Linked DNA regions of Homo sapiens. The protein of the gene in region 1 purifies or fractionates together with the protein of each later gene. This does not show direct contact. Each region holds a gene or a part of one and is shown in the gene's direction. Other genes may lie near its edges.

Region 1 (5,068 bases):
ACCAGGAGGGAAGGCCTTGTCCCCCACGACCTGCCTATCTAAATTTTGGTGGATCTTCTTCAAGACCCAGAAAGAGATTCCCTTTTCTGCTAAGCCCCCACCACTTGCACTGTGGTTATGCGGCTCATCTGGAAACGCTTCCGTCATTCCTCAGACCTCAAACCCTGTTGTTAGTAGGAAGCATGGGCCTGACTTTTGATGAAAAAAAAGTAAAAATGTCCAGTCACCAGTCACACTTTACTTCTATGTGTTTATCAATACTTAATAGCAGACTATGGCATATAAACTGGGTTGTAGATTCATTTTTTAGATTCAAATAATTTCTCTAAAGCAGGTAGAAAACATTTAGTGAGTTTCAAATGTAATGTTATGTGAAATTCTTATTTTTGTTGAAAGATTAAATAATGAAGAGACCATTATTGTTGTTCCTTCTGAGCCTTCTCTGATTTTAAAATAGGTGTAACGTAGAGATCAGGAGCGAAACTAACATAGTGAAGGTTGTGGCCCCATAGTTCAGCTTGTGAAACTTTCACGTCGTTGTGTTGGCTTCAGATCTTCGGAAGGGAGAATTGCCCATCCAAATACAAATGAGGCCCCTCCCATCCCCTCCCCACTCCTGGTCCCACAGTCTCCTTCACAGCATTTGAACTGCAGGGAATGTTAGAGTTACCCTAAGACGACCCGTCACTAAGATGTAAAAATCTTTTTTTTTTTTTGAGACGGAGTCTCGCTCTGTCACCCAGGCTGGAGTGCAGTGGCGCGATCTCGGCTCACTGCAAGCTCCGCCTCCCGGGTTCATGCCATTCTCTTGCCTCAGCCTCCCAAGCAGCTGGGACTACAGGCACCCGCCACCACGCCCGGCTGATTTTTTGTATTTTAGTGGAGACGGGGTTTCACCATGTTAGCCAGGATGGTCTCGATCTCCTGACCTTGTGATCCGCCTGCCTCAGCCTCCCAAAGTGCTGTGTTTACAGGCGTGAGCCACCGCGCCCGGCTAAGATGTAAAAGTCTTAGAACGTCACACTACAGCGTGTGTTTCTGTGATGCCTGTTTCCCCAGGCTCGAGACCTCCGTGTGCAGTGCTTCCCCGAGCACAGGGAACCAGACCAGTGGGAGCAGGAAGGACCTCTGCGAGGTGTTGGCACCTTAGAAATTTCTCTATCTATCATTTTAAGAAAATCCACCGGCCTGCTGCGTCGCCATGCTTCTGCAGCTGGTCCAGGGACAGAGCTTCGAGTGGGCTGGCCCAGCCTCATTTCCCCCATCAACCCCATTAATTTTTTTGTATGGGTTTGCAGAAACGCGGTTTTTATGGAGGCATGGCACAGCACTGTAGGAGAAATGGCAACCTGTGTTGCTTTGAACTCTCTTACCTTGTTATTCGTAGGTGACTGTTAGTTACACTTGCAAAAGCCAAATGAAACACTGTCATGATTTTATAGTTCCATCTCTTGTTAAAATTGGAAAACCACTAAACTCTACCTATTGAAAGTAAGTAAAGGTAATTTTTTGAGTTGAAAAAGAAAGAAAGAAAAAGAGAAAAAAAGAACCTGGAGCAAAAAGAATTAAGTGCCTTTACTAGGATGAAAAGTCATGAATTACGGGCTTGTGATGACAGGATTTCAGTTTTCATTTGAATCAGTTAAATTATCATGCAAATTGATGCAAAACTGAGATCCATTTATTCATTGAATTAAAAAGGCTGGAAGGAATAAATAGACGAGGTTAGAAGAAAATATGTTGCTTGATTGAATGAATTCACTACTTTGCACTGTGTCTTGCAGTATGGTATTTGGAAGTCAACTGGATATCCATTCAGGTGGGATAGATTTAGCTTTTCCACATCATGAAAACGAAATTGCACAGTGCGAAGTCTTTCATCAGTGCGAGCAGTGGGGAAATTATTTTCTGCATTCTGGTAAGTAATAACTTCAGATTAATTTGTTCTGTTTCAATTCTAGCAGTTCTGTCTTTGTCGGCGGAACAGCTACATTTGGAAATACATAGTAGATCAGCTAATAGGTCAAGAAATGGATTTGCCTCTTAAATTATTTTTGAGTTTCAATCATTTGAACATGAGCTTCCTTGGATTGCAGCAATGATTATACCTTTTTGGAACTGACTAGAATATGGAAAATGTTTGGCAATGCTGTTCTATATAAGGTTTCTTTCAAGTAAAACTATTAAGAAGGAACTTGAAGTAGTACAATGTAACGATAATTATGAACATCCTTTCTGAAGCTATAATGTTGTCACTAGACATCTCTGCCATCTTCTAATAACATTGCCCTTTCTTCCACTGTTCAAACACCTAACTGATGAACCCCAGCTGTCTGCTCTCAGAAGTGGATGCAACACCATGAGTTAAGCAACACCTCGAACCCAGCAGTTTTGGAATTCACTTGGATGCACTGGAAGAGTCGTATTTCCAAGTTTACAGGGTCACGATTAACTAGTCTTATTACCTTTTGGGGATGGACAGCTAAGGTATTTGAGATGAAGAAAGATAAAGAGTGTTTGGTAGTGATAGGATTTGGAGATGCAAACTTCGACATCTAAAATACAGAAAATTAACAAATACTATCTTTTGAAGTCCTTGAATTGGGAAATTAGGATGTCACAGTAAAGTGACATTAAGTGCAGAAGTGCTCTGGTTTTCTGGTCCGCAGCAGAGTTCACTTGGGTTTCTTCGTGAAAGTACATGAGGCTGATTGCCCCGAAGTCACTTCCTGCAGCATGTCCTTCACCCCGGGCTTACCCTGTTGAGTCGGGGAACCCAGCAGGCGGCTCTGCCCCTACCATTACCTACTATGTCTGCCTCTCACAGTGCCCCAGTTTTTGTCTAAAAATGAAGCAGAAACAAAGCTGGCTGCGTGGCTGTTTGAGGACTTAGGAGCTGTTGTCCAGCACCCCATACCATTTCCCTGGGGAGGGCTCAGCACTAGCTGAAATCCACTTTATTCCGGTGTCGGTGGAGTTTCTAATCAGAACAAACGCCTGCCGCCCTCACTTCCGTTTCAGCTGGCGCTCACATGGGAAGGGGGTGCACGCTGCCCAGTGGTGGAATATTTAAGGCATCGCCCCTCAGGGAGCCGAGCACTGATTTCCACAGCCGGGGGCCTGCACTCCACTTTTGACCATGGGGAAGGAGGTCTCTCTTCCGTGGCCCAAGGACTTCTGAATTGTGTTCTTGGAGAGGAAGCGTGCTGGGAGCCCAGATAGTGGGGCTGAGACACTGTGTCTCAGGCACAGAGGTAGTCGTGTCCCTTGTCCCAGATGAAGAAAGATAAAGAGTGTTTGGTAGTGATAGATTTGGAGATGCAAACTTTGACATCTGAAATACAGGAAATTAACAAATACTAGTTTTTGAAACCCTTGAATTGGGAAATTAAGATGTCACAGTAAGGTGACATTAAATGCAGAAGTGCTCCGGTTTTCTGGTCCGCAGCAGGGTTCACTTGGGTTTCTTCATGAAAGTAAATAGATGAGGCTGATTGCCCCGAAGTCACTTCCTCGTTGACTTCGTTCAGGGCTCAGTTCAGCGCTCCCTGAACTGTCTGAGGAGCTGGAGTTGCTCCCTCCGCAGGCACGTTTCTGTCTGCAGGTTTATCCTGTTCAGTAGGTCAGGGTTTGTTACTGACAACCATGACCTGCTGTGAGCCCTTCTGCGAGTGTGGAGCTGGGGGGCAAGAAGGGCAGCCTTAGCTGTGCCAACGCTTCGTCCTGTCAGGTAATGAGGAGGGGCCGGGTCTAGAAACGGAGGTCGTGTTCACCTTCCGATGTGGGAATGGGAAAGCATTTGCTGTTGTTGTTGAAACAATTTCGCTCCGTCCCCCAGCCTGGGAGTGCAGTGGCACTATCTGAGCTCACCGCAACCTCTGCCTCCTGGGTTCAAGCAATTCTCCTGCCTCAGCTGTTCTAGTAGCTGCGACTACAGGTGCATACCACCATACCCAGCTAATTTTTGTATTTTTAGTAGAAGCAGGGTTTCACCATGTTGGCCAGGCTGGGCTCAAACCCCTGACCTCAAGTGATCTGCCACCTCTGCCTCCCAAAGTGCTGGGATTATAGGCGTGAGCCACTGCACGTGGTGGGAAAGTTTTGTGGCTATTTTTCAGTGATTTTTTACTACCTGTTAAGATACCAGCGATCTTTTTCATACTAGTTTGGCCCCAAACAAAACATCAGTGTCTCCTGACGCAGGAGAAGTGACACCTGTTCTCCTGTACCCAGTGGATGGAAGAGCTAAGTGGGCAGACACTATCCCAGCCTGTTAGGGCTGCTATAGCCAAACTGAAAGCGGGCGTGTTATGAACAACAGCAATGAATTCCTCACAGTTCTGCTGGCTGGGAGTCCTGCGTCAGCGCACTGGCAGACTCGGTGTCTCGGGAGGGCCTGCTTCCCATTTGTAGACGGCCGTCAGCTCTCGAGGGGCCTCTGTTATGAGAGCACTGATTCCATTCACACTGGCTCTGCCCCTGTGACCTCATCACCTCCCACAGGCCCTGCCTTCAGTTACCGTCACCTGAGGGCTGAGGATTTTGACAGGAATTTGGGAGGACATAAACATTCAGGCCTTAGCAAATGTGTTTTATTTTCCAACTATCATCAATTTTAAAAAATCAGAATCGTGCTTGGTGTAATCACATTATATAGAATTACATGTTCAAAGTTATATATGTTTTTTGGAAATCACATTCTAATTGGTTGGTTGGTTGGTGTATTTATTTATTTATTTTTGAGGCAGAGTCTCGCTCTGTGGCCCAGGCTGGAGTGCAGTGACATGAACATAGCTCACTCTAGGCCCAACCTCCTGGGCTCAAGCGATCCTCCCACCTCAGTCTCCTGAGTTGTTGGGATGTTGGGACTGCAGGTGTGCCCCACCACGCCCAGCTAATTTTTAATTTTTTTTGTAGAGACCGGGTGTTGCCATGTTGCCCAGACTGGTCTCCAAACTCCTGGGCTCAAGCGGTCCTTCCACCTTAGCCTCCCAAAGGGCTGGTATTACGGGTGTGAGCCACTGCGTCCGGCCTGGAGGACTCCTGTTTGAAGTTGTGTCAGAAAAAG
Region 2 (5,423 bases), on another chromosome or scaffold:
TGCAACCTCCACCTCCCAGGTTCTAGCGATTCTCATGTCTCAGCCTCTCAAGTAGCTGGGACTACAGGTGTGCCACCACACCTGGCTAATTTTTACGTTCTTTATTTAAAAATATGCTATTATTACTGACTATAGTCACCCTGTTGTGCAATCAATAGTAGATCTTATTCTAACTTTTTTTTACCCATTAACTATTCCCAACCCTGACTACCCTTCCCAGCCTCTGGTACCTTCCTTCTACTCTCTGCCCATGATTTCATTTGTTTTGATTTTTAGATCTCACAAATAAGTGAGAACATGGCGATGTTCGTCTTTCTGTGCTTGCCTTATTTCACTTAACATAGTGATCTCCAGTTCCATCCACGTTGTCACAGATGACTGGGTTTCATTCTTTTGATAGCTGTTACTTAAAAGACTGCTCTGCATCCAATTAGCCTACTTCTTTCCATTTACTCCCTCAGCCGTCTGGCTTTTACTCATATCACCTCATTCGAACTGCCAGTAACATAATTGCTAAATCCACTCCTGTCAGCTTTTTGTTTGAGGAAACAAACAGGATTCCTAATCATCTGCTTAGAGAAGTTAATGCCATACTTTTGTGATGCCAAATTAGAGAACTGAGCCTTAAAGCAACTAATTCATTCCCCTGACCTTATTTCTGGGCCTCTTAGGCATGAGTCATAGAATGGACAAGGCAAGAATAAGACCCTTTCAGTAAGGACCTAAAAGCCTTCAACCTTCTAGCTGCAGAACTGCTTTAATTTCACTCCAATCCTAGTTTGTATTTTCCAGGTACAGTCTTTGCCCGCTGCCTGATTTTTCCTCTCATCGTGACGGGCCAGCGAGAGGCAGCCAGGATCCACAATCACTTGCCAGAGATCCAGAAGTTTTCCAGTCGAATCAGAGAGGCCAAGTTAGCAGGAGACCATATTGAGTGTGAGTCAGTTGCAGAATGAGCGTGGGAGAAGTCCACATTTGCACTTTTCCTTACATTCTGCTGGGGGAAAGGAACAATGTAAATCAGAAGTTGCCACAGTCGGGAAAGTTCTAAAGGTTTATCTGTTTCTTAGACCTAATGCTCCCAAGGAGTGGCCAGGGTTGGTTAGAAATTTCACAGGCCAGGTAGATAATGAGGATGTTCACCTCCACTGATGTAACTGTTACCCCAACCATTAATTTCCCCTCACCTCACAGATTACAAGGCTTCCTCGGAGATGGCACTTTACCAGAAAAAACATGGTATTAAACTCTATAAACCTCTCATTCTCCCTGTGACTCAGGTGAGCAAAAACATTTCCTTCCTTATTTCATCCAGTACCCATGAAATTTCCTCTCTGTGTTTCATGTGTCCCAGGTCCCCCAAAAAACAGGTGGTGGTGGATTATACATGGCTTTCAGTAGTGGGGTGATGAAAATGTTCTCTCTGGTAAAGCATGCTGACACTGTTTATCTTGTGTAATAGGCCCCAATCTTCATCTCCTTCTTCATTGCTTTGAGAGAGATGGCCAACCTTCCTGTGCCCAGCCTGCAGACAGGTGGCCTCTGGTGGTTCCAGGATCTCACGGTATCCGATCCCATCTACATATTACCACTGGCAGTCACTGCTACAATGTGGGCTGTTCTTGAGGTAAGCCCAGATTGGCCAAGTGCCAGGCCTGCAAAGTGAACTGGGGTTGGAGGGTAAAGTAGTTGTACAGAATGGTCATCCTTCACTTGCTGGAGAAAGAGTTGATGGGTAAGAGATTAGAGACAGATTCACTGAAACTGACAGCTTTCCCGACTTTTCCACCCCACTTCTTTTGGCAGCTAGGTGCTGAGACAGGTGTGCAAAGTTCTGACCTTCAGTGGATGAGAAATGTCATCAGAATGATGCCCCTGATAACCTTGCCCATAACCATGCATTTCCCCACGGTATGTAATGCCTTATGGGCTGGCTCCAAGGCCTTCTGCCTAGCCTAGCCACCTAGCAAGCTGACCAGGGATACAGCTTCTGAGTCCCTTCTCTGTGTTCTCACCCAGGCAGTGTTTATGTACTGGCTCTCCTCCAATTTGTTTTCCCTGGTCCAAGTATCCTGTCTCCGGATTCCAGCAGTACGCACTGTACTTAAAATCCCCCAGCGTGTTGTACATGACCTGGACAAATTACCTCCACGGGAAGGCTTCCTAGAGAGCTTCAAAAAAGGTAAGGGCTCATCCTCTGTGAAAAAGGACTAGGGAAAGGGGTCTAAAAATAGGAATGCAACTGACTCTCTTGCTTCTCTTTACACAGGCTGGAAAAATGCTGAAATGACGCGTCAGCTGCGAGAGCGTGAACAACGCATGCGGAATCAGTTGGAGCTAGCAGCCAGGGGTAAATAGTCCTTTCAGGCCAAATTCTGTCTTTTGTTTCTTCCTTTCTGTTCTTCGTTGAAATTTGTTTTCTCTTCTCCCCTCAGGTCCTTTACGACAGACCTTTACCCACAACCCTCTCCTACAACCTGGAAAGGATAACCCTCCCAATATCCCTAGCAGCAGCAGCAAACCAAAGTCAAAGTATCCCTGGCACGACACACTTGGCTGACTTATGTTCTGTGCGCATTCTGGCAGGAATTCTGTCTCTTCAGAGACTCATCCTCAAAACAAGACTTGACACTGTGTCCTTGCCCCAGTCCTAGGAACTGTGGCACACAGAGATGTTCATTTTAAAAACGGATTTCATGAAACACTCTTGTACTTATGTTTATAAGAGAGCACTGGGTAGCCAAGTGATCTTCCCATTCACAGAGTTAGTAAACCTCTGTACTACATGCTGCTTCCTGATACTTATTGAACAGGGAAATCAGTGTGCACTTCAGAAAACTGAAGAATACCCAGCATTTTGGGAGGCCGAGGTGGGTGGATCACCTGAGATCAGGAGTTTGAGACCAGCCTGGCCAACATGGGGAAACGCCATCTCTGCTGTTTTACAAAAATAGCCACACGTGGTGGTGCACACCTGTAGTCCCAGCTACTCGGGAGGCTGAGGCAGGAGAATTGCTTGAATCCGAGAGGCGGAGGTTGCAGTGAGCCAAGATCGCACCACCGCACTCCAGCCTGGGCAATAGAGGGAGACTGTCTCAAAAAAAAAAGAAAACTGAAGAATAGAGTGAGTCATGATTGCTTTTGCTGGCCCATGGCCTTGGAAAATATAATGTTTTAACCTGGCATTAAGGGTTTAAACTTCCACCCAGGCGCAGTGGCTCACGCCAGTAATCCCAGCACTTTTGGGAGGCCAAGGCGGGCGGATCACGAAGTCAGCAGATCGAGACCATCCTGGCCAACATGGTGAAACCCCGTCTCTACTAAAAAAAAAAAAAAAAAAATTAGCCGGGCATGGCGGCGGGTGCCTGTATTCCCAGCTACTTGGGAGGCTGAGGCAGGAGAATGGCGTGAACCCAGGAGGCAGAGCTTGCAGTGAGCCGAGATTGCGCCACTGCACTCCAGCCTGGGCAAGAGAGTGAGACTCCTTCTCAAAAAAAAAAAAAAAAAAAAAAAAAAAAAAACAGTTTAAACTTCCAACCCATGCATGTGTTGTTCTATGCACATTTGGATTGCAGTCTAGAGGTGTGGCTGATAAGTTGAATGTTGAGATTGTATCTAAATATAGTAACCGCACTTCTTGATCCCAAGATTACTTTAAAAATTTCAAGAAGTAGATGTGTGCAAATTCTTAGTGATAATTAAGAATGAAAGTTCCAGGCTGGGCAAAGTGGCTCACACCTATAATCTCAGCACTTTGGGAGGCTGAGGTGGGTAGATCACTTGAGTCCAGGAATTTGAGACCAGCCTGGGCAACATGGCGAGACCTTGTCTCTGCTAAAAAGTTAGCTGAGCATGGTGGTGCTTGTCCATAGTCCCAGCTACCTGGGAGGCTGAGGTGGGAGGATAGCTTAAGCCCAGGAGGTTGAGGCTGCAGTGATCCAAGATCATGCTGCTATACTCCAGCCTTGGCTACAGAGCAAGATCCTGTCTCAAAAAGGAAGTTCATGTCATTTTTATGTAACAATCCAACATTTGACTAGAGCAGTTTAAGTGTTCTGTTGTCTGCCTTTGTGTAGAGCCTGGTTTATCAGCCTTCAGCAGCTAGCTTGAGAGAGAAAAGATGGATATACTTTCAAGCATAAGATTGATTTTAGTCTTTGTGTTTCTAGGCTAATGGGAGCTGTCCTAGAGATAGATACTATATAAAATGAAGCCACTCAGACTTTAGGAACATAAACTTTTATTGTCATCCAGCACCTGTGATAGTTTCATGTCTCTCTAAAGGAGACAGGAAATTGGAGCATTGTGGGCCCTTTTAAAAGAAAAGAGGAGTAGGTAGGCACACCCAGGTGCTTCTAAAACAACCAAGCCCAAACCTGACATGCTCCTCCCCACAGTCACCTTCATTGTCCCCTTTAAAAGTCTGGAACAGTATGTAGCAAAACAAATAAATTACTTTTCATTTCAAAAAGTAAGTTCAAAGGTTGAAGCTGCCTAGGCCAGGCTTCTGGACAGGTGCCTCCAAAGAAGTGAGCTTTCCTTTTCAACTTCCTTAGCTCTAGCCAGTAGACCAGAAACCCCTGCTTTCCACATCAGGATTCCAGATGGTGTTTAGTTAGATTTGGGATCCCGTTGCTTGGGCATCTCTCCTCCATCTTCCAAATCCATTTCTGCAGCAACTGACATACACAGGACCTGGAGGTACCTTGTGGCAGACCCTACAAAGAGAACTTTGAGTTGGAATTGAGAAGAGGTCAGCTGGGCTGAGTTCAAGTGTCACTGAATGGAACTCAGTGTGAGGGGAGTGATTCCACTAAGCCGAAGGGTTCATAAGAAGGGGCTAAGGCAAAGATGTCTTTGGAGGCTGGATTTACAGAAAAAGGCAAAAACCAAGCTCTGCAATAGCTGAGCGGACTTAAGGATGCACGGCTTACCCACGATCCTTCGGAGGTAAAGCGGTCGCTTATGTTCTGGCACTCTGATGATGAGGAAGTAAAAGGGCAGGCCTGAGAGGGCAATGGCAATGCCGATGAGGGAGTTGATAGTATCACTGTAAAGTGGAACAGCCACCAGGAAGATGGTGCAGAGGCAGAAGACAATCGGGAAGAAAACGCTGAGCTAAGGGCACAGGAAACATAACTGGAGTGGACAACTCAGGATTCTTAACAGCTAAAATAACCCCACCTCCCATAAGGATTAGCGCACTGAGCCTTCTTTCCATACCTTTAATTTCAACACATTACTAACGACCAAGTCCCAGGCAAAGGTTTCTAAATAAAGTGCTTTGTCATAGTCCCTTGTAGCAACAACTCCAGCTGTTTCAGGTGGAGCAGAGGTAGGATGGAGTTGCCTTACCTTGAGGGGACGAGGTCGATCAGGCTCCTTCCAGCGCAGATAAAGCTGACCCACAATAGAAAGCCCCA

What was found. The genes of interacting proteins can lie anywhere in the genome.
Region 2: the proteins of CARS2 (region 1) and OXA1L fractionate together in Homo sapiens (co-fractionation; one large-scale study listed by BioGRID). This does not show direct contact.

The regions. Positions count from the first base shown.
Region 1 is NC_000013.11:110,664,190-110,669,257, reverse strand, and holds part of CARS2 (probable cysteine--tRNA ligase, mitochondrial), read left to right. Parts: intron 1-1,784; coding exon 1,785-1,918; intron 1,919-2,329; coding exon of another isoform or gene 2,330-2,487; exon of another isoform or gene 2,488-3,730; intron 3,731-5,068. UniProt on the Homo sapiens protein: Mitochondrial cysteine-specific aminoacyl-tRNA synthetase that catalyzes the ATP-dependent ligation of cysteine to tRNA(Cys). In addition to its role as an aminoacyl-tRNA synthetase, has also cysteine persulfide synthase activity.
Region 2 is NC_000014.9:22,768,999-22,774,421, forward strand, and holds the end of OXA1L (mitochondrial inner membrane protein OXA1L), read left to right. Parts: intron 1-792; coding exon 793-936; intron 937-1,194; coding exon 1,195-1,280; intron 1,281-1,462; coding exon 1,463-1,627; intron 1,628-1,806; coding exon 1,807-1,911; intron 1,912-2,019; coding exon 2,020-2,182; intron 2,183-2,269; coding exon 2,270-2,350; intron 2,351-2,435; coding exon 2,436-2,560; 3' UTR 2,561-4,044; downstream 4,045-5,423. Other genes in the region: SLC7A7 (Y+L amino acid transporter 1), read right to left, coding at 4,612-4,718, 4,935-5,118, 5,356-5,423.